Regions from separate parts of the Homo sapiens genome. Here regions 1 and 2 are each reported to be linked to region 3. Evidence: microRNA targets listed by miRTarBase, many of them from high-throughput screens and not tested one by one. Region 3 holds a microRNA gene; each other region holds the end of a gene's coding sequence.

Region 1 (10,143 bases), not on the chromosome of region 3:
TTTTTTTTTATTTTTAGAGACAGGGTCTCACTATGTTGCCCAGGCTGGCCTTGAAATCCTGGGCTCAAGCGAAATCCCTCCCTCAGCCTGAGCTGCTGGACTCCAGGTGGGCACCATTGCGCCCAGTTTAGAACTTTAATTGTTTAATGTTTTGTTGGCAGCTTAGGAGTTTTTATAACATGGTGCTTTCTTTCTTTAAGTTCTACCTGTATTACAGAACTTGTCAGATTTTACTAAGATAAGCAATTTACTGAAAAGTGCCTCACTAACATATTTACAGCTCAGAGGACAGGAACTTGGGAAAGTTCTGTGCTCATGGCTATGTTTGCGCAAAGCAACATTACCTAGAGCAGGATGACACTGGCCTTCGTCATAATTAATGTTTAACCAGATGTGTGTGTGTGTGTGTGTGTGTGTGTGTGTGTGTGTGTGTGTGTGTGTGTGTGTTTGAGACAGAGTCTTGCTCTGTCATCCAGGCTAGAGTGCAGTGGCGCCATCTCGGCTCACTGCAACCTCCGCCTCCCAGGTTCAAGCTATTCTCCTTCCTCGCCTCCCAGCTAGCTGGGATTACAGGCTTGTGCCACCGTGCCAGCTAATTTTTCGATTTTTAGTAGAGGTAGGGTTTCACCATCTTGGCCAGGCTGGTCTCGAACTCCTGAGCTCGTGATCCACCCGCCTTGGCCTCCCAAAGTGCTGGGATTACAGCTGTGAGCCACTGCGCCTGGCCAACCAGATCTGGTTTTTAAACAGAACTTATTTTCTGATTCTAAAACTTTAATATTCTTGCAGAAAATTTGGAAAAGAAGAGTAAATAAGGGAAAAAAGCCCTTATGATCCATTTTCCACATATAACATCTTTATTAATACTGTGGTGTGTATTCTTTCAGTCTTTGTTCAGTGTTTAACGTCTAAAATTTCATTCATTCTGAGATAAGCATTTCTTTTCACATTTACATCTCTGAAAGTCGGATGTTTTATAATTGGCTTTTTGTGGTTTAATTGGCAGAATGTTTTCTTAGAGGAACATAAAATGACATTTCTTACAGTTAATGGCATCTTATTTTGATGAAATGTGGAATACATTTTATTTGTAATCATAGTTTATGTACATTTTTGTGTTCTATTTCAACCAGCATGCATCCATTTTCCAATGTTATAAAAGTTCCTCAAAAACCTTTTAGAGGCTGTGTACTTCCTTGTATAAATATAGCACAGTATATTTAATATTTAATTGTTTTTGAATAGTTTATCCCCTGCTTTTTTGCCTGTCTCCAGTTCTACAGTGAAAATTTTTGTACATAAATTTTTATCTAGTTACAGCTTCATTTTTCAGCCTGGGTTCCTAGAAGTGAGATTACTGAATCAAGACAATGATAATTTTATTATTTTTGGTGTATAATACCAAGTGGCTTTTCCAGTAGGTTATCTGCCAGTTTACAAAGAGCACAGGTTTTCAGAAACTGTAGTGCTCAACAGAGAAGCCGTCTCTTGGTGTCCCCCAAAGGAGATGCTCACACCATCCTAAAGGGCCAGTTCCTCTTCTTTGCCTCTTCACATCTAACATTCAATTTCAGCAAAAAGTGGATGACTGTGAGCGGTGCCGGGAATTTTTCAACAAAGAAGGGCGTGTAAAAGGCATAAGCTCAACCAAGGAGGTTTTAGATGAGGACACGGATGAAGAGAAAGAGACGCTCAAGAACCAGCTGAGAGAAATGGAGCTAGAACTGGCACAGACCAAACTCCAGCTGGTGGAGGCCGAGTGTAAGATACAGGTAACAGCAGCAGAGCTCAGACATGTGCCTGCGGGCTGGGTTTCCTGATGTGCACTAGAGACCCCAGAAATTATCTTTATGGTTTGGGGTTTTTCCACACCTTTTAAACTTTGGTCACAGTTGTCATGAGAAGAAATATAGGACTTGTTACTGGCCAGTGGATGTCTCATCAGTATTTGGCCTGTCTTGAGGATTTCCGCTGTCATATTGAGAATAATACACAAAAGCTTGGAATCTTTTGATGGGATGAGAAGACAGTGCTTTAGAAACACAGCTCTACCACTGAACTGTTTGACCTTGGGTTAGTAACCTCCCTACATCTCAGGTTCCTTATCTACAAATGGAAATGATGAGAGTCCCTATCTGATAGGTTGGTTTGAGGACTAAGTAAGATAGTGTGCACAAATGGCTTGGCAGAATGTCGGGGGCTTTATAAATGCAAGCTTTTGTTCTTCCAGTTCCCACCACTTAACTAGCTTTGTGACTGTTAATATACTACCTATCTGAGCCTCCTTTCCTGATAAAGAAGTTAGGGCTTGTTTTGGTCATCTTAATACACATTGCTAGGTCCACCAGCACCACTAAACCCTAAGCACTGTTTATGGAGGGAACAAGTTCAGGATAAAAGCTTTAGGGCTGATTCTCCCTCATGGCACACATTCACTGGGCATCTGCTCTTTGGCAGGCCCTGTTATAGGTCTGGGACTGCAAAGCTAAGGCCTGGTAGTGTGACTACCCGGAATAATCAGGAAAGGCATCACCAAGGCAGCAGTAGCTGTGCTGTGATCAAAGAATGCACAGGGCTTGTAGCTACAGGAGAGAGAGAACAGTGGCAATTCCAGGCAGAGGGAGTGGCATGTTCAGCAGCACAAGGAGGAGAGTGGCTGCCCAGGAAGGACCCTCAGGAGTTCTTTCCTTGCAGTAGGGGATGGAGGTGGTGCTAAGGCTGGAAGAGAGTGTGTGGATCCAGATTGCGAAGCATTTCAAATGCCATGCTAGGGAGTTTAAAGATTTTTGCCAAAATGAAATGATGTCACCAGAAATAGAGCATTACCTGTCTGCCTGGTGTGCATTAGGTGGACAGAAGAGGGAGACATAGCAAGTAGAAGACTGTTTTAATAAATAGACCAGGCAAGAAATTAGATCTTAACTAAAAGCTCCCAAATCTTTAGGCATTTCAGGCATTTCTATGCCAGTTGGAGACTGGGGGAATTCCCCGAGGCCTCTCCAGAGTAAATAGACTGCATTCTTGTCTTGGTTCTCCTCTGGGGAGCCAGTGTCATTGACACCAAGCCCAGCATCCTCATGCACACTGTTCCTCTTGCAGGACTTGGAACACCATTTAGGGCTTGCCCTCAATGAGGTGCAGGCAGCCAAGAAGACGTGGTTTAACCGAACACTGAGCTCCATAAAGACAGCAACCGGGGTTCAAGGGAAAGAGACTTGCTGAGAGCAGCTGCCGCCTCCCGACACCTTCAGAAAACACGACACCTTTTGTTGCCTTCTTTGGCCAGATGTGTGATTCTGTGACTTGTCCCAGGACCAGAATGTACCTAAGTCAGATCCATAGACGCATGTTGGTAGGTCACTGGACCAGAGCTTGTGAAGCAGGCAACCTCTGGGGTAAGACTACTGATACTAACAGGCCTGCTAGCTCAGCCGACGCTCTGGACACTCTAGAAATCACTCCTCAGTGTGACCTCCCAGGCCTCTTCCCCGTGTACGTCAACACCTCACCCAGCCTAAAGGCTGAGTTTACATGATCAGAGTTAGGGGATCCTTCAGTCTGTTGATTTTTTTTCTAAACCTTTTTTTTTTAATATACATATATATATATATATATATATATATATATATATATATATATATATATAGTGGGGGTGGGGCAAGGGATCAGAAATTCAAATAATTCTTTTCTGCTTCAATGCCAGCAGAAGGTCCCCCAGGTAGACATGGAGAAGCACTTTGTTTTAAATAGGAGGGTTTCATAGTTGCATCTGAAGCCACCTGGTTCTGTTAAACTGTATGGTGCAGGTTTTGGGTTTGGCATTATTCATGTTTCTGATCAATTCTATGCAACTCTCATAGTTCCTGTTACTTTTTAGCATTAGCTGCCAAATGACTTCAAAAGGCTGGGGTGGGTGACTTGACTGTGAGACTGGATTATAACATGGACAAATCTTATTTTGCTTAATGTGTTTGTGTGTGTGTGTGTGTGTGTGTGTGTGTGTGTATGTATATATATATATAAATATCTTTCCCAATATGCCCCGTTGACAGTGTTTAAATTCCAGACTAGGACTGCTGATCTGCACAATTTAATTATGTGGTTATTCGAGCACTTAATTTCACTCAAGGTTCATTGGGCTCTGCTCTCCTCCCTGCCATTACGGGAGCTGTGGACAGAGCTCCCTCACTTCAAGATTCCTAGTGTTTTTGCACAACAGGTTGTCCAAGTGAGAAAGACTGAGTTGCGTGTCTGTAAATGTCTGCGCAGGGTGCACATGCTGCGAGGTCTCCATCCTCCGGGCCTGTCCCTCCCAGATGGGCTGGGCCTTTGGGCCCTCCTCAGAGTATGCCTGGGTACAAACCTCACTGTTCAGATGGGCTGTAAGTTCTCACTTCAAAGCTATGGAATGGATTTTAGCACCTTTAAAAAAAAAAAAAACTTTGACTTTTAATTTATATAGTGATATGCTGACAGGCTGACACGCAGATGGTTTTGTCCTCTTTTCTGCGTTCAGTGTTGAGGCGGCTGCTTACAAGAGGCACTGGTTTTGTATATAAAGACACTCGGGTTGTTTTGTAGCTCTTTTTCTTATTGGCTGTACTAACGCTTGCTGAGGTTATCTGTAATAAGGGAGGTAACAAGTGGCAACCCCCTCCCCACCAACCATCCCCTTTGCTGCTTTCTGTGTCTTTCTTGTTCAGTTACCAAAATAGCTGTAAGCCTATCTAATGCTAGGTGTGTGGACATTGTGCTAAGGTAGTTTCAGTGTGTCAACTTTATGAATTGAAATATAAACCAGTAAAATTGTATTACTGTTTCTTTTGTTGGTTTTATTTTAACAGCATATTGATTAAATATTTTGGTACAAACAAACAGCATTGCTTTGTAAAAACCAGTTTTGTCATCACCTACTCCTGTCGCCTCCCCTTCTTCCCTCATCCCCTGCGCACAGAAGCAGTCAGAGAAGACCACTGTGTGTGCTGTAAGAGAGGCATGTGTGAGCGCGAGGCAGCCCCTCACCCACCTGTTGAGACGTATGGAGTGGTAGGGTGTGGCAGGCCACATGGGGCAAGATGACGACGTTGATGCCTCTGTGTTTGTTTATGATGAACATTGCCCCTCTGAGAAATAACATGCTGTAGTAGCAGGGATGAGGGACACTTGGTGTTTTTGAGGCTTAAGGAAGCCTTACAGGAGGTAAGGGTCAAATTAGACCTTCAAAGGCAAAAGCATCTCACCAGGCAGAGATGGAAGAGGGAATTCCAGGGCCAAAGTGTGCATGTGCAGGGGAAACAGCTGAAGAGTAGAAAGGCAGGCTGAGCACCTGGGGGCCGGCTGTGGTCTGCTAAAAGCTTTAAAAGCAGTGACATGGAGTTGTCATCATCTTTTCAGAGCCTCTTTCTTCCTATCGCCTGTCCTCCACATCCCTGCACCATACAGATGAGGCTCCCAGGCCTTCTGCTGCCCCTCTTCACCACCTCAACCCCCTTCTCCATAGCAGGAAGAAGAACGAAGCTTCCCTAATCTTACGGTTCCCCCTTCCCGCTTGACCTGCCCTCTAGGACCCCACCTATGCCTAGCCTTTAAATGGATGCAGGCTGAACAGACCATAGCTTCATGCCTGCAAGAAGGATGACTGGATGGATGGCTGGATGGACAGACAGACAGATAAATGTAGATTAGATAGATAAAGTAGATGATAGATAAAATAATAGATAGATGAGATAGATAAGATGGATAGATAGATGATAGATCGATAGATATAGATAGATAGATAGATAGATAGATAGATAGATAGGGATAGAGATACAGATTAGACAGAGAGCAGGTGGGCCCCTGCCCTGTCTGTCTGTCTTTCTCCACTGCAACGAAACTAGGAAAGTTCCTAGCATAGGGCTCAGCCCCTGGCAGGTACTCTTGCAGAAGCCAGGACTGTGGCTCCAGAGCACAGCTAGGTCCCTTTGATGCTCACAGGCTGCAGGCTGGAGGACATGTTTCTGGGATCCACATTCTGGATCAGCCTGCTCCATGCTTTTCCTGTCCCATGGCTTCTGTGTTCAGTAGGGCAGGGACTCAGCAGAATCCTCATCCCTGTAGCTGCGTACTGGCCCAAGAAAAGGAGTCCATATACTATTTAGTCTTGGCACACAGGCCTCAAACGACTCGGATGAGGGTTCTGCTTTTGGGGAGGTCCCCTGGTTATGTTGAGGCTGAGACTGAGAATAATGTGACACCGTATGGTAAGTCGTGTACAGGTGCATGGGATCCTGTGGGAAGGTTATGTATAAATGCAGGAGGGACAAAGTGGTAGTGACAGTTGTGACTGACAACTAAGGGACTTGCTAGCTAGGCAGAGGAGCAGCAAGAGGACAGCGGCATTTAGGTGGGAAGAATAGTAGTAAAGTCGGCTTGAGGTGGGGTGATGAGAGATGAAACTGGGTAATTAGGTTGCGGCCATGCCAGGGAGTTTGGAGCTGATAAGGAGTCACTGGAGAGTTTTAACCCATTTATGCCAGAGGTTACAAATTTTTTTGTGTGAAAAATCAGACCTTGGCGATGACCTTAAGCAGTAGGATATAAATAACTCCCACAAGCTTAGCGTTCCAATAATGGAACACTAGGCATAAATGGGTTAAGCTAACTTGCACTTTGAGTGGTTCCCTGCTGATCCTTTAGGAAGAAAAATCGGGAGGAGAAGAAATTAAGGGTGTGAGCAGAGGTGACAGATGATAGAATAAGGAATGGAGAACGGAGTCAGTGAAATTTAGGGAGAGTGACGACACACCAGGAAGATGATAAATTTAGCTGTCGGGGTATAGATTTGAAATAGTCTGGGACTTGCAGGTTGGAGATGCTGGCAATCTACAGCTGCTCAGTTGTTGGTTTGGCATCTCTAGCGCAGGGTTTCTGGACCTCATTGTTGATGATTTGGCTGATTGATACTTTTGTGCTGTAGGGGGTCTGTCCTGTGTAATCCCAGCAGCATCCCTGGCCTCTATCCACTGGATGCTAGTGCATTACCCCACGCCAAGTGGCACAACCAAAAACGTCTTCAGGTATTGCCGAATATTCCCTGAGGGGGCCAAATCACCCTTGATTGATTGAGAACCATTGCTCGAGCAAGCTGAAGCTAGGAGCCTGGAGAGACTGCCTAGATAATGTACAGCTTAAACAAGGGCTAGGAGCCGCCATTCAAGGAGCAGGAGAGAAGACATGGAGAATGGAGCATAGACGGCCAGAGAGGAGCAAGAGCTACCTTGGGGTGGGGATGAGGGCAGGACTGGAAAAGCTTCATTGGATTTGGGAGCTGGAAGGTTGTTAGGGCAGTGGCCACTACAGTTGAGATGATGGGAGGGCAGGAGGCAGAGACAAGCAAGTATAGATTTTAAGAAGCCTGGCTGTGAGGGAAGTGGGCAAGCAAGGCCAGTGGTCAGAGGGGACTGTGGCAGGAAGAGCAGTTGTGCTGGGCCACTCAGACTGTGGTTCCAACCTTGGGCACCTGTTGTCTCCTGCTCACGAGGTCGGCAAGCATGCAGCACAGGCTGAGTGGACCTTCTTTGGCAGGCCCTGCTGCAAACCAAGCTGATTTCCAGGGCCTTGATAATTCTCAGTGGGGAGGCAGCGGCTCAGACCGAATGGCAGGAGCTATCAGCCCCAAAGTGTCTGCACCTCTTCTGAATTCCAAGTCAAGTCCCAGGGGCAGGGGCTGAGTAGTGAGGGGGGTGAAGAAGAGAGCCACCGGCTACCCGAATAAGCCCAGAACACAACTCCCATGTTTGAGCTGACCCATCAGTTGTGAAAACCAGAGCCCATGCAGAGGGGAGCGCAATGGGTGACATGGGCCCCTTGTGGCCTTGGAGAGTCACTTCACCGCTCAGAGACATGCCTGATTCTGACATTGGGATTTAAATCCTCTTCTAAGATTCATTTGGGGGGTGATGAAAGAACAGGAACGCTGGAGCAGGCAGATATGAGGACTGGAGCCGCCCAGAATGGGCACTGAGGCACTCCCAGAACAACAGACATGAGTGCTGAGTTCTCTGCCCTCCACATTTGATTGATTGATTGATAGGTGAAGAGAGATGGGCTCAGAGAGACGGCTGGGATGTTGACTCGTACTTCTGTCAGTAACCAGCAGGGTGGCTGCTTAAAGATGACCGTGTGGAAGCAGGTAGGTGTAAACCGTCACAGCATTGTACTGCAAGCAACACACACAGAAACTCAGGGTTCAAGGCCAGGCCATACCCTTGGACGTACATTTCACTTAACCTTCCTGAGTTCTGATCTGTGCAGTGGGTCTGGTGCCTGGCTCGTCAGGGCTGCTGGGTTCTCCTGTGACGCCCTTGGCTCTTTTCCTGTATTCTTCTCCCTCCAGTCATCAGAACACCCCTGAGTTCAGTGATGTTATTCCCAAATTTGAAAGTGAAGGTGAAAAGTCTGCCTGTGACCACACCATCGGGGAGTTAGTTTTCCTACCACATACCACCACCTTCACCTTCTCTTCCAGGGCCCAAGAGCAAGAAAGACAATGCTCCCTCCCTCCCCCTCTCCCAGTTCCACCTCAACAACCTGTCTCCTGTGCAGCTGAGGCCTGTGGCAATTGTGAACAAGAAAGCCTAGCCGTCCCTCAATCTCAGAAAGGCCAACCTGGGAATGAGGATGGGAACAGCAGAGAGCTGGCCCGGGCGGCTCTTCTTTCTTTCAGTCAATTCTTGCGTCGTCGTAGATCCAGCCTGATGATGTATAGGGAGAAGGCGGGGCCCTGAGTTCTAAAGTGAGGCAAACACAGCCGGCGCCATTGCCCACACAACTCTCCACTTACCTGGAGGCAGCAGCAGCAGCAGCAGCCCCTGGCCCGATTCCCCACCAGGACACTTCCCTGGGCTACCGGACCTTCTTCATCCTCGTCCTTCCAAGTGGACTGGGACTACATTGTGGTCTTGAGCTCTCAGTTACTAGGGCAGCTCAACTGCAGAAGCCTTGCAGAAAAGCAGGCAGCAGGAAGAAGAGCCTTAGCTTTGGGTTCCAATTGCTGCCGCCCTCTAGAAGCTCGACACCATTGGGCAGGGTCCTTTAACCCTGAGCCTCGGTTTCCGATCTGTATTGTCTGTCTGGGTATTACTGACCCCGCGAACAGGTGTGACGATTAAGAGGTCAGCACTCACTCAACATGACATCACTTACCACTCACTGTGCCAGGGTGCCAGGTTCATGTTTCATGTTGAGGAAACTTCACACCACAGAGAGGCAGGGTTTTAAGGACCATAACGGGATCATGAATTAGGCCCTGGCCCCACCCAAATCACTGTCCATTATCAGGAGCCATCCACCCCCCTTCAAACATCCTCGGCCCCTCCATCCCTTTGCATGAAGGGAAGAACCTGTAACATGTACTGAACTAGAGCCTTAAGGGCCAGGAAAAGGGAGCCTGCACTTGAACCTTTCACCAAAGCTGTATCCTTCATTTTATCAGTGGGTCTTGCACAGAACAATCCATTACTGTGTGTGACAGAAGCATTTGTTTGTTTTTATTTATCCAAATGGGGAGAATGCAACATGTCAGGGCATTACAGACAAACTGCAGCAGCCAGACAAGAGGGTCAGTCTATGGCAGAGTCCAACATACTCAGTGCGAAGGAGCCACAGTGCGGGTGCTGCCTGGAGGACTTGTGGCAGCAGGGTCCCTTTGGATGAAGGCCAGGTATCTCTGGGCGAGGCACTGATGACCATCCACATGTGCAGGCTGCTGCTTCAGTCACGCTGAAGGTTTAAAGTTCAGAGTCCTACATGTAATAATTGCCTCAGAGGGGAAGGGCAGTCCATGGTGGTCACGGTTTCCAGTGTTTTTAAACATAATACACAAAGTTATTGCCAAGGATTTTGCACTGCAAATTATACTATTTACACTTGCGTATTCAGAAAAACACAGTAAATAGATACATGATAGATATTTTAAATAGATTTCTAAAAACCAACTTGGTCTTCAGTAGACCCGAGTGAGCTACAGCCAGGAGTCCCATGCCATGTGTGTAACCGTGCGGTAGGGAAAGGTTTCTATCCACGACTACGCTCAGCCTCCTCCTGCCTCCCCCACCCTTGGGCCTGACGAAGGGCTAAGGCTGAGCAGGCCTACCTTAGTCC
Region 2 (9,292 bases), not on the chromosome of region 3:
TGTGGTCACAGCTGAATGAGCAGGACTTTACCCCCAGAAAGGGGAGAAATGGGGCTTATTCAGATGGTCCTCCCTAGATGGACAGATGAGTCCAGAGTTCCTACTGCTAGAAGTAGTTACTCTGCCTCACCTTAGAAAGGAATGGCGATGGCCGGGCACGGTGGCTCACATCCGTAATCCCAGCACTTTGGGAGGCCAAGGCGGGCGGATCACGAGGTCAGGAGATTGAGACCATCCTGGTTAACATGGTGAAACCCCATCTCTACTAAAAATACTAAAAAGTAGCCGGGCATGGTGGCGGGCCCCTGTAGTCCCAGCTACTCGGGAGGCTGAGGCGGGAGAATGGCGTGAACCTGGGAGGTGGAACTTGCAGTGAGCTGAGATCGCGCCACTGCACTCCAGCCTGGGCGACAGAGCGAGATTCCGTCTCCAAAAAAAAAAAAAAAAAAAAAAAAAATGGTGATCAGAGAGTAGGTATGGTGAGAAATGAGGGGTGGGAGCAGAATGAAAGGACATAGAGGCTGGTCCACTTGGGTTGGTAGTTAATATTAATAGTTGGGCGCACTTTTCATTTTACTGGAAACTCAAAGCATTTTCCTTTCTGTTTTGTAGGCCACGAAACTGGCTACTGCTTTCGGATGTCCTTAAGAAATTGAAAATGTCCTCCCGCATATTTCGCTGCAATTTTCCAAACGTGGAAATTGTCACCATTGCAGAGGCAGAATTTTATCGGCAGGTTTCTGCAAGTCTCTTGTTCTCTTGCTCCAAAGACCTGGAAGCCTTCAACCCTGAAAGTAAGGAGCTGTTAGATCTGGTGGAATTCACGAACGAAATTCAGACTCTGCTGGGCTCCTCTGTAGAGTGGCTCCACCCCAGTGATCTGGCCTCAGACAACTACTGGTGAGCAAGCTGGACCCACCATGTACAGTGTGTTATAGTGTTAATCCTTGTGCATATGTGTCATAATACAACTATTTCTGTAAAGAAAGGACACTATTACATATGAAAATATCTCTTCTTTATATAAGAGAAATTACTCCAGTCAGAAGGACTTAGAAACATGTTTTTTTCCTTTTAAACTTTTAAGTCAGTTTTTATGAAGTTGTTATAATGTTTCTTTACTTTTCAATGCACACATGCTTTGGGATACGTTTGTTTTTACTTGGAACATTTGTTTCTTTTCTTTTTTAAGGAGAAAAAAAAATGAGTAAAAGGAGCTCCACACTTTGACTTAATTTCATACAAAGCTCTGATGACAGGCCATGACTGTAGAGTGGTCAGAACTGTGTGGTTGGTTTGAGGGAGCGAATTCGGGGAAGGCACTTGGTGATATAACTTTGTTTTGTTTACAGAGTACCTGCTCGGGCCAGGTAAATGCTATTGGATGTAATCCAGTAGTGTGTAATATAAATTCAAACCATATCCACACACAACAACTAATTGTATGAAACTTTTATATCCTAATTTAAAAGCTGTGAAATTAGTTTTCACGCATCAAACCGGATTGTTTATATGTTTAAACATTTTATGCTCTTATTTAAAGAAGACTTTGAGCTATTTTTTTCTGTACCCTGTAAAATATTGAAAACTAACATAATATGTTGAGGTTGCTTGGAAATGTACATAAAACTAAAATTTTCTGAATCGTGTGTTTATGTTTGAAATCTGTGTTTTAACTTTGTAAGTAAATTCTCTGCCTTTGTATTTATATTTTACAAAAATTTTCTTAAAAGGCAATAAAACTGTTGAGGAAAGGAGAAAATTGAAGTACCTTGTGTCCCATGTATTCCTAAAGCATTATTGTTGTCCCTGATTCTTCTTAAATGGTGCTGGTGATGTATTCCCTATAGATAACTTTAGAGCAATTTATAGTCTCTGGAAACCAAAGCAGACTGGAGGATTTTGGAGGAGTTATACTCAGAATATAATTTGGAGTCCTATTCTGAAAGCCCAATTCTTGGACATATTTCCTGTCTCTTAGAACCTTCTCTTTCCTGTCTCCTTTGATGCTTATGGAGGCTTTTGCACTGCCTTTGGCCTTGACCTATTTCAGTCCCACGTCATGGCCAACTCTCTAGGAGTGTTTTTTCTGAAGCTAGGCATTTGTTATGTCACTTCTGCAGCCCTTCTGTTGCATGGCCTGAGAGTCAAGGCCTGTAGAGCCAGCCTTTCCTCTGTTCTTGACTTTTCCCAGCAGTATCTGCACTGGGCACTATCAGTTGGCCCTTGATTTCCATCTCACTTGCTTTTGTGCCTGTCCTTCACTATAGAGGCTAGAAAGCTGAAAACTACTTGACTCCCTTGCAGCTAGCTTTCTGAGTGCATATTCTGTTTGGAGGGCAGCATGAGGTAGGGGCACCTTCCTACTATAGTGGCTGCGGATAGGAAAATTTGAAGAGAATGCCAGCCAGTTGGAATGACTGACCAGCATTCCAGTGTCTGGTTTTCAGCTTGGTGGGTGATGAGATACAGTAGTGGTTGTGGCAGTGGCAGCTTTCTAATTCTTGGATGACAGCCTCAGCAGATTGTTCGTGAACCCTGTGGATCCAGAGTTGTCCCTGACTCCTGTTCCCCCAGCCCTTCCAAAGACCTTATTCATCTGGGTCCTTGTGTCAAATCCATTTGTGCACCGAATGCCCTCAGTGCTTTCTGATCCTGCATGGAACACTAGGACTGCGAAAGCAGAGGAAAGAGGCTGTGGGGACACTGTATTTGTCAGGCCAGCAAACACTGTGGAAGAAAAAAAAGGAAAAGTGAGGCATTGTTGGGAATGAAGAAATTCCATGTGAGGAATGCAAGAGCCCTTTTTGGGGGAAGGTTGGCTACGAATGAAGTTTGGAGTGTATCTTGAAGACAAAAGGCAGCCTACCATCTTATTTACTAATTTTTCTGATATTAGAAAATGTATACCTTATTTAAAAAACCCAATCATGTCAGAAATAGACACGTTTCCTATTATCCCCTCCCCTCCCCCACCCATGTTAACCACTATTAACAGTTTACTTAGTTTTTGTTTTACAGGAAGTCCCCTCAAATAGCTAGGGGGAGTGTTGAAGGGAAAAAAACAGACGACAAGACCAGTAAAACAGACCTGTAGAAATGATTTAAGCAGAAGAGGACTGGTGAAGCTGAACTACCATCAAAGCTACGAGAGATCCTACACACCCAGATTTAAAAAATAATAAAAACTTAAGGGCATCCGGCTCTTTGTATTGGGGTTGGAGGCAAAGGGGGAGCCCAAGGCCAACTGAGATTTTTATCTTGGATGAAGGTCATTCTGTTAATTAAGCTAGGAAAACAGGTGAGAGCCACAAGGTTAGGGTGTGCAGAAGAAGCAGCTTGGTGCAGGAGACATTTAAGGCTGTGGTTCATGCAGTTGGAGGAGCTAGTAGTCAGAACAGTTAGTGCAAGAACTGTCAGGGTGGTTGGAAACATGGACGTAGAACTGACTGGGGGTATAGATGAGATCCCCATGGCTGAGAAAGGTTTGGATGTAGAGCAATGCCCCACCCCTGCTCAGGAACTCCCCATGGGTAATAGAGCTCACCATGAACATAGAGTGGGCCACAGGTATGGGCCAGATCACACTCCACAGGGAGAGGGACGCGTCACCAGAAGGTAGGGGAGCTTATTGTGTGTTGAGAGGAACTCAGCATGGGTGTTCAAGTGCTCACCACAGGTTTGGAGCAATCATGATCTAAGGTCACCTCGGGCGTTGAAGAGCTCTCCACAGGCAAAGATGTTAACACAGGTGTAAGTGAGATCCCACTGCAGGTAGAGTGCCCATTCCAGTAGAACTCCTCCTGGGGGGAAGGGAGTGGGTGTAGAAGACACCACAGGCATAGATGAGATCGTATTGGCCGTATAGAAACACCATGGGTTTAGAAGAGCTCACCAGAGGTACAGAGCAGACCTTTATAGGCCCTCATTTGGGTGTCCAGGAACCCACCAGCAACATAGAAGAGTTTCCATGAAGGTCAACATGAGTGCAGTGGAGCTCACCACGGGTAGACAGCAGAAGTGGTTCATTCCAATTCTGAAGGTGTCCCTTAGGATCAGGACATGCTTTCCTTTGCCCTGTCCTCCCTCTTCCTGGCTAGAATGTGGCTGCTCTAGCTATAGCTGTCACAACCACCTTGGACCATGAAGTATCGAAGTCGAGCACTGCTGGACAAGTTTGAAGGAGCATGGGTCTTTGAGAATCTCCTGGAACCAAGCCACCATACCAGCCCTACCCTACCTGCCATTTACGTTAATTGATGTAATAGCAAAACACCCAAATCTCCATCAGTTGGGCACTGGTCGAGTTAACAATGGTACACCCACACAGTGGAATACTATGCAACTGGAAAAAGAATTGAGGAATAGTTCCCTAACTTGCTTTAGAGTGGTCTTCCAATTATTATTATTTTATTTTATTATTTATTATTATTATTTTTTGAGACAGTCTTGCTCTGTTGCCCAGACTTGGAGTGCAGTGGTACAACCTCTGCTCACTGCAACCTCTGCCCACTGCAACCTCTGCCTCCTGGGTTCAGGCAATTCTCCTGCCTCAGCCTCCCAAGTAGCTGGAATTATAGGCACCCGCCACCATGCCCAGCTAATTTTTATGTTTTTAGTAGAGACAGGGTTTTACCATGTTGGCCAGGCTAGTCCTGAACTCCTGGTCTCAGGTGATCCACCCAGCCTCAGCCTCCCAAAGTGCCAGGATTACAGGCGTGAGCTACCATGCCTGGCCTATTTATTTTTTTGAGACAGGGTCTCGTCTCGCTCTTGCCCAAGCTGGAGTGCAGTGGTACAATCATGGCTCACCACCGCCTCAACTCCCCAGGCTCAAGCAATCCTCCTGCCTCACCCTCCTGAATAGCTGGGACTACAGACAAGCACCACCATTCTGGGGTAATTATTTTGTTTTTTTGGAGAGATGGGAGACTTGCTGTGTTGGCCAGGCTGTTCTCCTGAGCTGAAGCGATCCACCCACCTTGGCCTCCCAAAGTGCTGGGATTACAGGAGTGAGCCACCACACCTGGCCTGAAAACATTTTTATAGTTGTTTTCAGTAATCTTATCTTTGGTAGTGTCAGTATTGTTATTCTGAGTCTGTCCTGTTTGTGTCGTGAGATAAAACAAAAGGAAATGTTGGTATTGAGAACTGGGACTTCAACATGAGAGAAAGGAGATGAAAATATAGAATTGGCAAGGTTAGATAAATTATCCAGCCCTGAACATGAATTGTAAGTATCACTATGAACTCATGATGTATTAATATTTTATCTTAGGAAAGTTTGTTTCCTAGCTCTGTCCTCTCAAAAAGCCTGGAAACAATGACTGATAGAAATGAGCACCATAGCTCCCAGCCTATGGTTTCTAAATACCTTTCCTCATTAAAAACAACTGAGCTTTATTTGAGAAATGGTTGATTCCAGTTTGGGGCAGGGAAGAATTGGAAGGGAGTATAGATATATACAAGAAGCCAGTGGGGTTGTGTCAAAAAAATTAAGCCTTCCAAAGTGCTGGGATTATAGGCCATGAGCCACAGTGCCCGGCCAAAAGTAAGTTTTATAACATATGTTGTTTAACTCCGTATATCCGAAGTATTACCATTTTGACATGCAATCAATACAGAAATCATTAACGAGACACTTTTGTTTTTTATACCAAGACTTTAGAAACTCCAATGTGTATTTTACATTTGCAGCACTTTTCAGCTTGAACTGGCCACATTGCCAAGTGCTCAGTAGCCACATGTGGCTACTGGCTACCACACTGGACAATGTAGGTCTAAGTCTACTTACCAGTTTACAAGAAATACAAGGGGCAGAGAAACACGTTAGGACACTATGGGTATGCATTCAGCAAAAGCCAAACTGTGAGACTCTATAAGACACATGGGGCTGGGCACGGTGGCTCAGGCCTGTAATCCCAGCACTTTGGGAGGCTGAGGTGGGTGGATCACCTGAGGTCAGGAGTTCAAGACCAGCCTGATCAACATGGTGAAACCCCGTCTCTATTAAAAATACAAAAAAATAAAAATAAAATTAGCCAGGCATGGTGGCGGGCGCCTGTAATCTCAGCTACTCGGGAGGCTGAGGCAGGAGAATTGCTTGAACCAGGGAAGTGGAGGTTGCAGTGAGCCGAGATCACACCACTGTACTCCAGCCTGGGCAACAAGAGCAAAAACCCATCTCAAAAAAAAAAAGACACATGGCTCAGTTTATTTAACAAATAACTTGCAAGGGGAAAAAAAACAGAGGAGGAAACCTCTAGACTAAAAGAGACAAGAGAAATACCAGCAAATGTAAAGCATGGATCTGTGAGTCTGATTTGAACAAACTATAAAAAAGAAAAAAAAATTGCAAAATTTGTAAAAACCAGGGAAATAGGAATGCTGAACATATATATATATATATATACATATATATATATATATATATATACATATATATATATATATATATATATACATATATATATATATATTTATATATATAATTTTAAAATGTGGTGTTGCTCTGTCACGGAGACTGGAGTGCAGTTGTGCAATCACAGCTCACTGCAGCCTCTACTGCCTGGTTTCCAGCAATTCCCCCACCTAAGCCTCCCAAGTAGCTGGGACCACAGGCGTGCACCACCACAACCAACTAATTTTTTTTATTTGTAGAGATAGGGTCTCTTTGTGTTGGCCAGGCTCATCTTGAACTCCTGGGCTCAAGCAATCCTCCCGCCTTGGCCTGGGATTACAGACGTGAGCCACTAAGCCTGGCCCAGAACTTTTTTTTTTTTTATTCCAAATCTTTTGGCAATGTGTGCTGAAATCTTTATGTATATGATATCTGGGATTTGCCTCAAAATCATCCCAGTGGGAGGAGAAGATGGAGATGTAGATGAAACAAGCCCCATGAGTAGGTAATTATTTTTATTTATTTTTTTTTTTTTTGAGACGGAGTCTCTCTGTCACCCAGGCTGGAGTGCAGTGGCGCAATCTTGGCTCACTGCAAGCTCCGCCTCCTGGGTTCACGCCATTCTCCTGCCTCAGCCTCCCAAGTAGCTGGGACTACAGGTGCCTGCCACCACACTCGGCTAATTTTTTGTATTTATAGTAGAGGTGGGGTTTCACCGCATTAGCCAGGATGGTCCCGATCTCCTGACCTTGTGATCTGCCTGCCTTGGCCTCCCAAAGTGCTGGGATTACAGACGTGAGCCACCGCACCTGGCCGGGCCATCAGTAGGTAATTTTTGAAGCAGGAAATGGGTACATGGAGGTCTCTGAATTGTGCACTTCTCTCTATTTTTGTGTGTGTTTGAAATTTTCTACAATAAGTTATTTTTTGAAAGAGAGCATCTCAGCCTGGGCAACCTGGGGAGACCCCATCTCTATAAAAACTTTAAAGGTTGGCCGGGCAGGGTGGCTCACGCCTGTAATCCCAGCACTTTGGGAGGCTGTGGCTGGCGGATCACTTGAGGTCAGGAGTTCGAGACCAGCCTGCCCAACATTGTGAAACCCCATCTCTACATACAAAAATTAGCCTGGCGTGGTGGTGGGTGCCTGTAATCCCAGCTATTCAGGAGGCTGAGGTGGGAGAATCACTTGAACCCAGGAGGCGAAGGTTGCAGTGAGCTGAGATCATGCCATTGCACTCCACCCTGGGTGATAAGAGCGAAACTGTGTCTCAAAACAAAACAAAACAAAAAACAAAAAACTTTTAAAAGTTATCCAGGCATGGTGGCACACACCTGTAGTCCTAGCTACTTGGGAGGCTGAGGCAGGAGGATTACTTAAGCCTCGAAGGTTGAGGCTACCGTGAGCCATGATTGCACCACTAGACTCCAGCCTGGGTGACAGAGTGAGACCCTGTCTCAAAAAAATTCAACCCAAAACAATACGTATCTTTCAGGGTTGTGAGGATTAAATGAGACCATATATGTTGAGCACCTGGCACAATGCCCAACAGGTAGTAAACACTAGATAAATATTTAGATTCTCCTTTTAAAAAAGGTCTGTACTTAAAAAGGGGGGAGTGGATTCTGAAAGGAGCTTGCCTCTGCTTGCACACAGTTTGCATATTTCTCCAAACTAGATGTGTATCCTTTCTCATCTCTACCATCTAGTGATGACTTGTTTGTTCACCAGGAAAACTGGAAAGAGGGAGAAACCTCAGTGGCAAAGGCGAGATGGGTCAGGGACGGCACAAGAATTCTCTGTGTGTTCCTATTGATATAGTTGTTTTCATTTGAACCATGTAAATGTTTAAATATTCAAGAAACCAAATTCAATAAAAATAGATGAATAAAGGCAAATATTGAAGTTGAGTGTAAACAGGAACAAATGAAACCATATCGCGTTGATAACATTACCACACAGAAAAAGAATTTGCCAAAGTAAGTTTTGAACATCCTTAGTGAAATATATTCCAAGGACAAAAATAATTGCAAAGATATCTTGGAACTTTACTCAGCAGATCTCTTGTAGTAATTCTGTATTGTATTTGTAATTGTAATTAGTAATTGTATTGTAATTCTGAAAGCCTTTTACATGCATTGTGAGATAGATGAGATGATAAATATGGTAATGGGAACCACTCTGTGAGAAGGGATATACAAACATGAAATGTGGAGAAGGGAGAAAGAAGCTTGTGATGTTGGCTACGAATTGCCAATTCAAGAGTTCAGCAAATACAATGTGGATTCCCAAGCTCTGTCTACTAAAAGGGCCTAACAAACGTTGACACCCTAGTAGCAATGAGCACATCTAGCACTAAGTTCTTGGTTTCTAAATGCCATTTCCTGCTGTCAAGAACCAGGGGCTGCCTGCAGAAAAGCTTGACCCAGAGTCTATAGCAGAGAACATACAAGGTGAGTGAGCCTAGCCAGTACTGTGACAGACTAGCTCCATATGGCACTGATAAGAAGGACCCAGCATTACCTCTACAGTGTTCTTATCAAAAATGTGCCAGTCTGGGCAACATGGCGATATCTCATCTCTACTAAAAATAGAAAAAATTAGCCGGGCATGGTGACACATGCCCATAGTATCAGCTACTGGGGAGGCTGAGCTGGGAGGATCTTTTGTGCCCAGGAGATCAAGGCTGCAGTGAACCATGATCAAATTACTGCACTCCAGCCTGGGCCACAGAGTGAGACCCTGTCTCAAAAAAAGAGAGAAAAAAAAAAAATAACTTGAATCCAATAATGAGGAAACAGACATTCTGGAAGACAAGACAACTGGCTTGGCTTTTTTTTTTTTTTTCCCCGAGACAAAGTCTCTCTCTCTTACTCAGGCTGGAGTGCAGTGG
Region 3 (10,143 bases):
GCCAGGAAGCCAGACTCACCTGCTCCGTCCTGTTGAGATAGGCAGCTCTCCCCATCGCCCCCAGTATCCGCACTGTTCTCGGCTGGCTCCTCCTGCTTGGGGGCTGGTGAGACATCAGGCTGAACCATGGGGACATTGGCTTCCACTCTGCTGGGAGACATGGATCCTGCAGCTCCTCCCTCAAGAACCGAGGTGCCAGGGTGCGTGGCATGAGAGCCAGCTTGGGCTGCAGAACTCTCTTTTGCCTCCCTGCTGTGCACAGAGCCCTCCTCTCCCGTCGTGGGGCTGGGCACAGCTCGGAGGGCTTCGCTCACGTTCTCTGCGGGCTCCACTGCAAAATCTTTCTGCGGAGGTGGTACCACCAGGAACAGTTTGGGCTTCTTGGAAATGGGGGGTGGCTTCCTGCTGGGTGAAGAGTCTGGGAGTGGGGTGGTGCTGGGGCTGGGCCGAGCCTCTGCCTCCCCAGCGCTTGGAGCTCCAGGGCTGCGGCTCACAGGGCCACCACGCTCAGCCGCACTGCCATGGTCACCCTGACTCGAGCTCTTGGCAGGCGTCGGAAGCGAGCTTGTCACAGAGGCAGGCTGGCTTTCACTCTCCATTTCATTTGTGCTATTTCGGGATTTCAGGAAAGCAGATGGCTTTAAGTGGTACTGTGGAGCAACTGGAGTTCGTTGTTCCTGAGCTGTTCGTTCAGACAACTGTGCCGCCTCAGCGCCTGAGTTCTTTCTCACGGGCCTCAACTGCACCATCTGCAATGCTTCCGTGGTTATCAGGGGCATGGGGGGCCTGCTGGTCTCCTCCTTGGTAGAAGGCGGCCTCAAGGATCCCCGGGAGGATTCTGGCTGGCCAGAATTTGTGAAAGGCGGCCTGGTGTCTTTCATGAATTTGGGGTCAAGAGGTGGGGCAGGTGGGGGTTCCGAGGAAGGTAAGAGAGGTGGGGGCAATGGCAAGGACACAGGTGAATCTGGAAGAATGGGGCTCAGTGCAGGGCGGGGAGGAGAAAGGCACCAATCAGGTGGGGAGCAGAAAGGAATGAGAGCTTCTGGCGGCGGAGGGGGGAACACAGGAGAGTGAGGCAGAGGAGAGCCCTGGGAGCAATCTGTGACAGGAGGTGGGGGAGGAAGGAAAGGAGACCTGTCTGCAGGACAAGGGAATGGAGGAGAGGGAACAGGAGGAGGAGGAGGAGCCGGGGGAGAGCCCACGGCTGGATCCAGCTTCTTCATAGTGCCACTTCCTTCAGTAGAAGTACTAGAAGAAAGAGAAGTGGACGATGAGGAAATGGATACTGAAGATATCAGAGAGGACTTCCTTTCTGGTACCTTGGGCTTGGGCTTCCCCTTCCCGTTTGCTGGTGACACTGATTTTAAAAACACAGGCACAGGGGTGAGTGCTGTGGGTGTATTCGACTGGCTGGAATACCCACTGGATGGAGAAATGACTCTGTGTGACTTCTCTGGTGACATGATCTTTGGTTTGACTGAACCACCGGGCACTTGGGGCATTGTGGCTCTGGACCCTTCTTGGACATGGCGGACTGGCCCGTTCCCAGTGGGCACCCCACTGCTGGTTGAACAGCCCCCTGCCGGGTTCCCCGGATCTTCCTGCATGCCCGTGTAGTCAATGTAATAACCCCAGGGGTCCGTGTACTCTGACTTGACGCTGCTTGTGTCACTCTGCGATGGCGTGGCCCCGCACAGGGAGTAGACATTGGGGGTGGTGGCGGAAGTCATGCTGCTGCCAGCACTAACTGTGCTCTGGCTCCGGGAGCGGGGCAGCCAGGGCTCTTCCAAGTCACTGCAGGGGCTCTGGGAGGGCGAGCTGCCACTCTTGCCTGGGAGGCTCAGCTGCAGCGAGTGCTGGAGTGTGGCGATCAGGCTCTCGTTGAGCACCTGCCCGTTGCACTGGCTGCTCTTCTTGGGAATCCTGCGGAGGGAGTCTGTCCGGGAGGGTGGCAGGGGAGGCTTCTTTGCTTTCTTCAAAGAGATGTTTCTTGATAGGGATTTATCCTGGTAATTGGACCGGTCCCCTTGGTTTTTCTGAGCTCTTCCAACAAAAACATTGATCACGCTGTGCCTGGGGTTCCCAAAGCCATCACTGCTATTGCACAGATTCCCAGATCCATGTCCAGAGTCAGTGTGCACAGATGCACAGTAGCCATCGTGGTCCTCAGAATACAGCGACCCAGCATCCTCTTTGTTGGACGTTTGGTCCAAACTGCAGCTGCTCATGTTACTTGTGGGAGTGGAATAGCCAGGAGTTGCTAAATGCGGCTTCAGGGGGGATGCCCTTCCATTACCTGAGGATTTGTATTCCCAGGGCTCCGAGCTGCTGTGCCCTCCGCCCCCTGAATAACTAGATTCACTCTTGCCATCCACATCTTGGGGGTGGGCTGGGAAGGCCAGGTTGTTTCTACAATTATACGGCATAGCTTGGGACCCATTCTCCCTATTTGCTGGAGCATTTAGAGGGACGGCTGAGTCACAGAGGGACAACAGTGCGGGTTCACCAGGGGAATGAGGGTCTAAGTCCTGTGAAAGAATGGTGGCATGGCCCTCATTCCAGTGGCGACCGGGAGACTGAGGATCACCTTTCACAGCATGCCTGGAGATGAGGTGGTCTCTGGATTTTATCCTTGCATGTGATGAGCCAGAACTTTTACTTTCCCGCTGTCCCGCACTCTGAGCAGTGGGAATAGCGATGACCTCGGAAGAGGAAGACAGTGTGGCATTTGGGATGATGCTGGTGGAGTAGGTTGCATGAGGAGAAACCACACACGCTGGGCTCATTATATTTTCACTCTCGAAGTGTCTCAACTCCTGGGATTTGGGTCTCAAAAGTGTTCCAGTCCCTGAGGCACCTCCTAAATGGCCTAAGTTTTCATCTGCTTGTGGGTGACCTCTCTGGTAGAGGAAAGTGCCATTCATGTCTCCTGCAGGGCCGAGGGCACCCAGCCTCGGCTCAAGGGACTGAATGTTTGCCCTTGCTCCAGAACGCGGAAGACTATGGAAGCCAGCATCACTGTCAAGGCGGGAAGGGAATACGATCCCTGCAGAATCGCTCAGCACAGACATGTTGCCAGAGGAACCTGAGAAGTGGCCCATCTGGGCAGCAATGCCTTGCCCCTTCTGTGCCCTGATTCTCCTCATGGAAGGTGGTACGACCTTCACATCCTCCGTCTGACAGCTGGAGTCCCTGGTTTCTGAGCGCTGCCCAGCAGACCGACAGCTATTGAACCTTCCTAGTGTAGAGTAGTGATCAGGGGTGTACACTGAGTGGCCATCAGCATCATCTTGGCCAGTGCCTGATGCTGGAGATAAAGCAGAAAGAGGCTTGTTACCTGAAAATAAAATCCATAGTTCATCACGTGTACCCTCACCCCTCTGACAGAATTTTAAAAAAATTTTTCTATTTGATTTAATTTCCTTTCTCCTGTAGGTATCTAAGTACATTTAAAAAGTTACTGATAGCTCTAAAATGAAAATTATTGTCATGAATGTCAGGTACTTCTCTTAATTTGTACCTCCAATCCTCCTATGGCTTGAGTGCTGCGTATGGAATTCTCAGGGTATCCCTTCAAGATCAAGGCTGCCAAGGGCTCAGAGGAGGATTTACTTTGAAATAATCACCTTTCAGTAAAGTCTTCAAGGTAGCCTTTCGCCCACTGGGTGACTGTGCAGACCATCTATCAAGCAGTGACACATCTTTCCCAAAGGTAGATGAATGTAGTAATTGAACAATAGGGCCACAGAGATACCATATTTGAGGGGTACTGGTATAAAACAGTGTTAATTACATTAATTCTTTATGTCAGAAGGAAATTCTAAGGCAAAGAAAATTGATTTACAGGCCCATCTGTGTTCCAAACATTTCATTATCCATCTGAAGCCATTATCTGTCTGTTGGTGACATTCAAAATTCAACAGCAATCTGTTGTGTTCTAGTTGGGGAAACTGGCAGGAACTGATCCAGTGAACATTTCCTCAAATTAGGATGATTTATTCGTTGGAGTTTTACAACCAAACAGAGAATAGTATGTTAAAAAAAAAAAAAGACAGAAAGAAAGAAACACAAGGAAGGGCCAACAGAGAGGGACGTGGACGAGGTAAACTTTAAGTGTAAACAGTTAGATTTCAAGCTACCCAGGAAAGAACAGAGCTTATGAGAAAAAAGAAAAAAAATCACAAAGACAAGAACCTACCCAAAGTGTACTGAGAAAAAAAAAAGTCAATCCTTAAGACAAATCGAATCTCTAAAAATAGTAGTAAAACTATAGTTCTCCCTATGTTATCTCCATCCAACAAGGACCCAAAAGTATCTATCTCAACACGGGCTTTGCTGAGCAATGCGAGTCAAGCACACCCCTCTGTGTCAGTGGACACCTGGATGCGACCCTAGGACTGATGGGGTTTCTAAGGCTTCCCTCTCCCAACACATAATCTAACCAGGGCATGGACTGGATATAGGATGCCTTTTGCTCACTCAGATAGCAGAGGGTAGTACTGAAATGGCAGCACTGTGCTTGTATCAACCTCAAAGGAGATGGCACCCTGGAAGGAAGGATCCCAGCATAAAGCCTTCTCCTTCACTGTGATGATGGAGAGGAATTTTTATACTTGTATTTTTAGCGAAGATGATCTATTTCCTCTCTCTACCCTCTTTCAAGTACTCACTCACTGAAGACAGATAGACAGACACATACACACACACGAGGCTGTCCCACACAGAGAGGGAAATGGGCAAAAGGGCAGGACAGAAGAAAAACCCACTTTGAGGAAGTGCAAAATTTTGCCATTTAGTAATTTAGAAGATGGGAAGTTGACTGGTATCGGTGTATCAGTGTATACGAGTTCAATTCCAAACACTCAAAATATCTCATTCCATTCAACAATGAGTTTTGAGTGTTTGGAGTTGAACTCATATAAACAAATACATTTTTTTTCCTTTCAAAATTGTACTAGTTTTTGCATGGAGTTAGTGGTAGATTTTTAACTGTCTTTAAGTAGCATAAACAAAATCCTGATACTTTTGGGTAGCAGTTTTAAATGTGAAACCATTCTAGGCATGTAAAAAAAAATAGAAATACAGCTATTTTATCACCCTCTAGAGCTAAGTATAACTTTCTTATTAAAACAAAAACATTTCCTAAAGACCTTAAAAAGCATATGAAAAAACTCATATATCTTATCACAAGGACCACCAAAATTCTATTCCCAAAACAGACCCTCCAATATTTTCACAGTATAAAAAGTTTCAGAATATGATAGGAAACAGATGAATGCTATAGATGCATACGTCGTTTTACTGTGCTTAGCTTTATTGTGCATTGCAGATAACTGGGGTTTTTTTTTTTGTTTTTTTGTTTTTGTTTTTTTTTTTACAAGTCGAAGGTTTGTGGCAACCCTGTGTTGAGCAAGTCTATTGATGCCATTTTTCTAACATGCTTACTGTGTGTCTGTGTGTCACGTTTTGGTAATTCTTGCAATATTTCAAACTTTTTCATTATTATTAGATCTGTTACGGTGATCTGTGACCAGTGATCTTTGATATTACTATTGTAATTGTTTTGGGGGTGCCACAAATCACACCCACATAAGATAGCAAATATAATTGATATATGTTGTGTGTGTTCTGACTGCTCCACTGACCAGCTGTTTCCCAGTTTCTCTCCCTCTTCTTGGGCTTCTCTATTCCCTGAGATACAACAATAATGAAATTAGGTCAATTAATAACCCTACAATAGCCTCTAAGGGTTCAAGCGAAAGGAAGAGTTGCATGTCTCTCACTTTAAATCAAAAGTTAGAAATGATTAAGCTTAGTGAGGAAGGCATGTCAAAAGCTAAGATAGGCCAAAAGCTAGGCCTCTTGTGCCAAACAGTTAACCGAGCTGTGACTGCAAAGGAAAAGTTCTTGAAGGAAATGAAAAGTGCTACTCCAGAACATACACAAATAAAAAAACAGCTTTATTGCTGATATGGAGAAAGTTTTAATGGTCTGGACAGAAAATCAAACCAGCCACAACATTCCCCTTAAGCCAAAGCCTAATCAAGGCCCTAACTCTCTTCAATTCTGTGAAAGCTGAGAGAGGTGAGGAAGCTATAGAAGAAGAGCTGGAAGCTAGCAGAGGTTGTTTCATGAGGTTGAAGGAAAGGAGCCATTTATATAACATAAAAGTGAAGCAGCAAATGCTGACGGAAAAGCTGCAGAAATTTATCTAGAGAATCTAGCTAGGTTAATTGATGAAGGTGGCTATACTCGACAACAGGTTTTCAATGTAGATGAAACGACCTTCTAGTGGAAGATGTCATCTAGGACTTTCAAAGCTACAAGAGGAGGAGTCAATGCCTGTCTTCAAAGCTTCAAAGGACAAATTGACTCTTGTTACAGCCAAAGTAGCTGGTGACTTTAAGTTGAAGCCAATGCTCTTTTACCATTCTGAAAATCCTGGAGTCCTTAAGAATTATGCTAAATAGAGTCTGCCTGTGCTCTGTAAATGGAACAACAAAGCCTGGATGACAGCATGTCAGCTTACAGCATGATTTACTGAATACTTTTAAGTCCACAGTTGAGATCTACTGCTCAGAAAAAAAAAGATTTCTTTCATTTACAGTGCACCTAGGCCAGGGGGCAGTGGCTCACACCTGTAATCCCAACACTTTGGGAGGCCAAGGCAGGCAGATCACCTGAGGTCAGGAGTTCGAGACCAGCCTGAACAACATAAAGAAACCCTGTCTCTACTAAAAATACAAAAAAATTAGCCAGGCGTGGTGGCACATGCCTATAATCCCAGCTATTCAGGAGGCTGAGGCAGGAGAATAGCTTGAACCCAGGAGGCGGAGGTTGCAGTGAGCTGAGATCGCGCCATTGCACTCCAGCCTGGGCAACAAGAGTGAAACTCTGTCTCAAAAAAAAAAAATACACAAATGTATATATATATATATATATATATACACACACACATATATATATATACACATATATATATACACATATATATATATACACATATATATATACACATATATATATATATACACACATATACACACACACACACACACACACACACACACACAAAAAAAAAAAAAAAAAATACAATGCACCTAGTCACCCCAGAGCTCTGATGAAGATGTACAAAGTTTTCATGCCTGTTAACACAACATTCATTCTGCAGCCCATGGCTTAAAGAGTAATTTTGACTTTCAAGTCTTAATTTTGTAATGCATTTTGTAAGGCCAAAGCTGCCACAGATAGTGATTCCTCTGATAGATCTGAGCAAAGTAAGTTGGAAACCTGAAAAGGATTCACTACTCTAGCACAGTAAGAACAATTTTAATTCATGGGAGAAGGTCAAAATATCAACATTAGTAAGAGTCTGGAAGAAACTGATTCCAGCTCTCGTAGATAACTTTTGAGAGGATCAAGACTGAAGTGAAGGAAGTGACTCCAGATGTGGTAGAAACAGCAAGGAACTAGAGTTAGAAGTGGAGCCTGAAGATGTGGCTGAATTGCTGCAATTTCATGATCAAACTTGAACAACGAGGCATTGCTTCTTACAGATGAGCAATGAAAATGCTTTCTTGAGATGGACTCTACTAGTGAAGATGCTGTGAACATTGTTAAAATGACAACAAAGGATTCAGAATATTATATGAACTTAGTTGATAAAGCAGCAGCAGGGTTTGAGAGATTGACTCAAATTTTTAAAGTAGTTCTACTGTCGGTAAAATGTTAATAAACAGTATTACGTGCTACAGAGAAATCTTTCAAGAAAGGAAGGATCTGTCAGTGTGGCAAATGTCACTGTTGTCTTATTTTAGGAAACTGCCACAGTCATTCCTACCTTCAGCAACCACCACCCTGATCAGTCAGCAGCCATCAAATTTGAGGTAAGACCCTTCACCAGCAAAAAGATGACAACTGTCTGTAGGCTCAGATGATCCTTTGTATTTTTTAGCAATCAGGTATTTTTACACTGTACATTTTTTTTTAACATAATGCTATTGCAAACTTAGTAGACCACAGCACAGTGTAAACATAACTTTTATAGGCACTGGAAACCAAAAAATTCGTGTGACTTGCTGTATTGCAATATTCACTTTATTGTAGTGGTCTGGAACTATAGCTGCAATAACCCTGAGGTATGTCTTTACAGATTAAAGGATGGAACAAACTACAAAAAGACAACTACAAACAAGTGTAGACCACTTAGGTGCTGCTCAAACTTGATGGGATTTATCTGATTTTAAGACATAATGTACAGAAATAATTATTTATACTTTTTCTTTTATTAATAATATTTTGAATTTCTAAAAAATATATGTAATTAAGGATGCTGAATATTTACAAGTTAGTTTATTTAAGGATTAGGCTATGAGTTTTTAAAAAGTCTTGTCAAGTAGATAGTTTCTTAGTATAAACTACCAAAAATTATTAATAAAGGGATTCCTTTAGATGAGGCCTTTTCTGCTTAGAGAATATGTATGGGGATAAGTTCAGTAGCCAAGTGTTATATATATATATCAACAAAATAATCCTATCTGATTCTAAAAGATGAAACCTCATAAGATGATGTTCAGATACATTTCTGTACAGATTTAAGATAAAAGAAAAAATTCAAAATGTCCAATTCACTGAAACGAAAGGCAACAAATTTTAGTTTATCAGATAAGTTTTGGAAATAAGCATTAAATATCATACCTTGATTTTAAAGTGTTATATATTGGCTAGTCTCCAGAGTCTATTATTTGTGGATTTTGAAATAAAAACTGCATATAATTAAGGATAATATAAATCCTTTCTAATTCATGGAAGTACCTCTCTGGTTAGATTTTTTTAAAAATCCAAAGCCGCTGGCAACTTGGGCAACATCTTTTGGACAGGGTGCATCTTTCCCAGTGAATGCCTTTCCTTTGGGACATCATTTTCTTTTTTGTCTAATTTGTTTGTTATACTTCCCTTGTGTGTCTTATATCTAGAAGAAGACTAATTTTAAAGAAAATATAAAGTGTCTATTTTTGATCATCATTACCTAGGTATGATTTGATAATCATTACCTAGATATACTACCTTGGTAGTTTAAGACTTCCAAACCAGAGTCCTTATAAGTGTAAAATACTGGGAAAAAAGGCAAGATCAACCAGAAGTCCTGAAAGGACAGAACAAATAAATATGTAATCCAATATTTTTGCTAAATAAAACTGTATACAAATGTTAACTCCTCATTCTATCCAGTAATCCTCCAACTAGCCTATCTATAAAACCACAGTCCTTGTCTAATTATCTTTTTTGTTTTAAAAAAACTAGCTCTTAGATACGGTTGTCTCAGTTGACCTCCAGTTCTAATCCAGGTCATGTCATCGACCGTAATGATATTGACTGTCTCGTGTCTGGCAACAGTCACAACCCAGATGATGCGGGGAAAGCTATTTTCTTCCCTCCAGCATTAGTGACGTTCCATGTCACATGTAAAAGAAATGAACGTGGATTCCAGAGATTTTAATCACTGATTTAAAAAATACTAAAATTACAAAAGATATGATTTATCTAGCTGGCCAGAACATTCTAGTAAGATCAAAGAAACAACTGAGTTATTGGCTTCCATACTGGTTGGTTCAGTAATAAAAGTGATAAAAATTTGTAACTCTCATTCTAGACATCATATTACATATGCATACAGACAATGCATATGGAATACTTATGTGTATGTGCATCTTTACTTGGGCCACACTATCCTTCTGATCTTACAAAGGGCCTAAATGCCTGTCTTTAAAGTCACTCCTTGAAGTCACATCTCCTAAAAAGACCAGTTAAAGTATAAATGTTGCTGGAATGCTTTAGGAAATTACTCCATTAACTATCTACTGAACATATGAGTACAGATTAGTTTCCGAATTAGTTAGCTGTCACTTCAAGAATGGAAAAAAGAGTCTGAAAGAATAAGGCATAAACTGAGAGGAGAGAGAGAAAGCACACATGTTTCCTTAAGGTAGGTTGAGGGAAGGTGCCTGGAGACCTCAGGTAGCCACAGAGGAACCAGGCCACTAATAGCAGCAGCATGTGGGGCACGAACCAAAGACAGACTTCACAATCCCACGGGAGCTGCTGCAGTCTTGCCTTTGTTTGTAATAAACCAATCCATGATAG

What was found. The annotated mature microRNA hsa-miR-3145-3p reads AGAUAUUUUGAGUGUUUGGAAUUG and lies in region 3 at 4,850-4,873, opposite strand. An mRNA with a match to its seed (bases 2 to 7 or 8) in the 3' UTR can be bound and repressed. Matches are read on the target gene's strand: a 7mer-m8 pairs with bases 2 to 8, a 7mer-A1 pairs with bases 2 to 7 and ends in A, and an 8mer does both.
Region 1: the mRNA of RABGAP1 is a reported target of hsa-miR-3145-3p. Seed matches in the 3' UTR shown: 7mer-m8 at 4,022-4,028.
Region 2: the mRNA of BCOR is a reported target of hsa-miR-3145-3p. Seed matches in the 3' UTR shown: 7mer-m8 at 1,007-1,013.

Annotation. Positions count from the first base shown.
Region 1 is chr9:123,099,992-123,110,134 of GRCh38, forward strand. It overlaps RABGAP1 (RAB GTPase activating protein 1), which reads left to right. Exons shown (of 26, transcript NM_012197.4): 25 at 1,575-1,772; 26 at 3,100-4,875. The coding sequence ends at 3,222. MIR600HG (MIR600 host gene) reads right to left here. Exons shown (of 1, transcript NR_026677.1): 1 at 9,503-10,143. It also overlaps a transcript of STRBP not described here. Among named protein-coding and RNA genes, the nearest start is that of MIR600, 6.6 kb to the right of the region's middle. RefSeq lists a silencer at 2,579-2,873.
Region 2 is chrX:40,043,721-40,053,012 of GRCh38, reverse strand. It overlaps BCOR (BCL6 corepressor), which reads left to right. Exons shown (of 15, transcript NM_001123385.2): 15 at 613-1,762. The coding sequence ends at 904. Among named protein-coding and RNA genes, the nearest start is that of LINC03053, 39 kb to the right of the region's middle.
Region 3 is chr6:138,430,374-138,440,516 of GRCh38, forward strand. MIR3145 (microRNA 3145) reads right to left here and starts at 4,921; the gene lies at 4,840-4,921. NHSL1 (NHS like 1) reads right to left here. Exons shown (of 8, transcript NM_001144060.2): 6 at 20-3,307. RefSeq lists enhancers at 1-312, 313-812.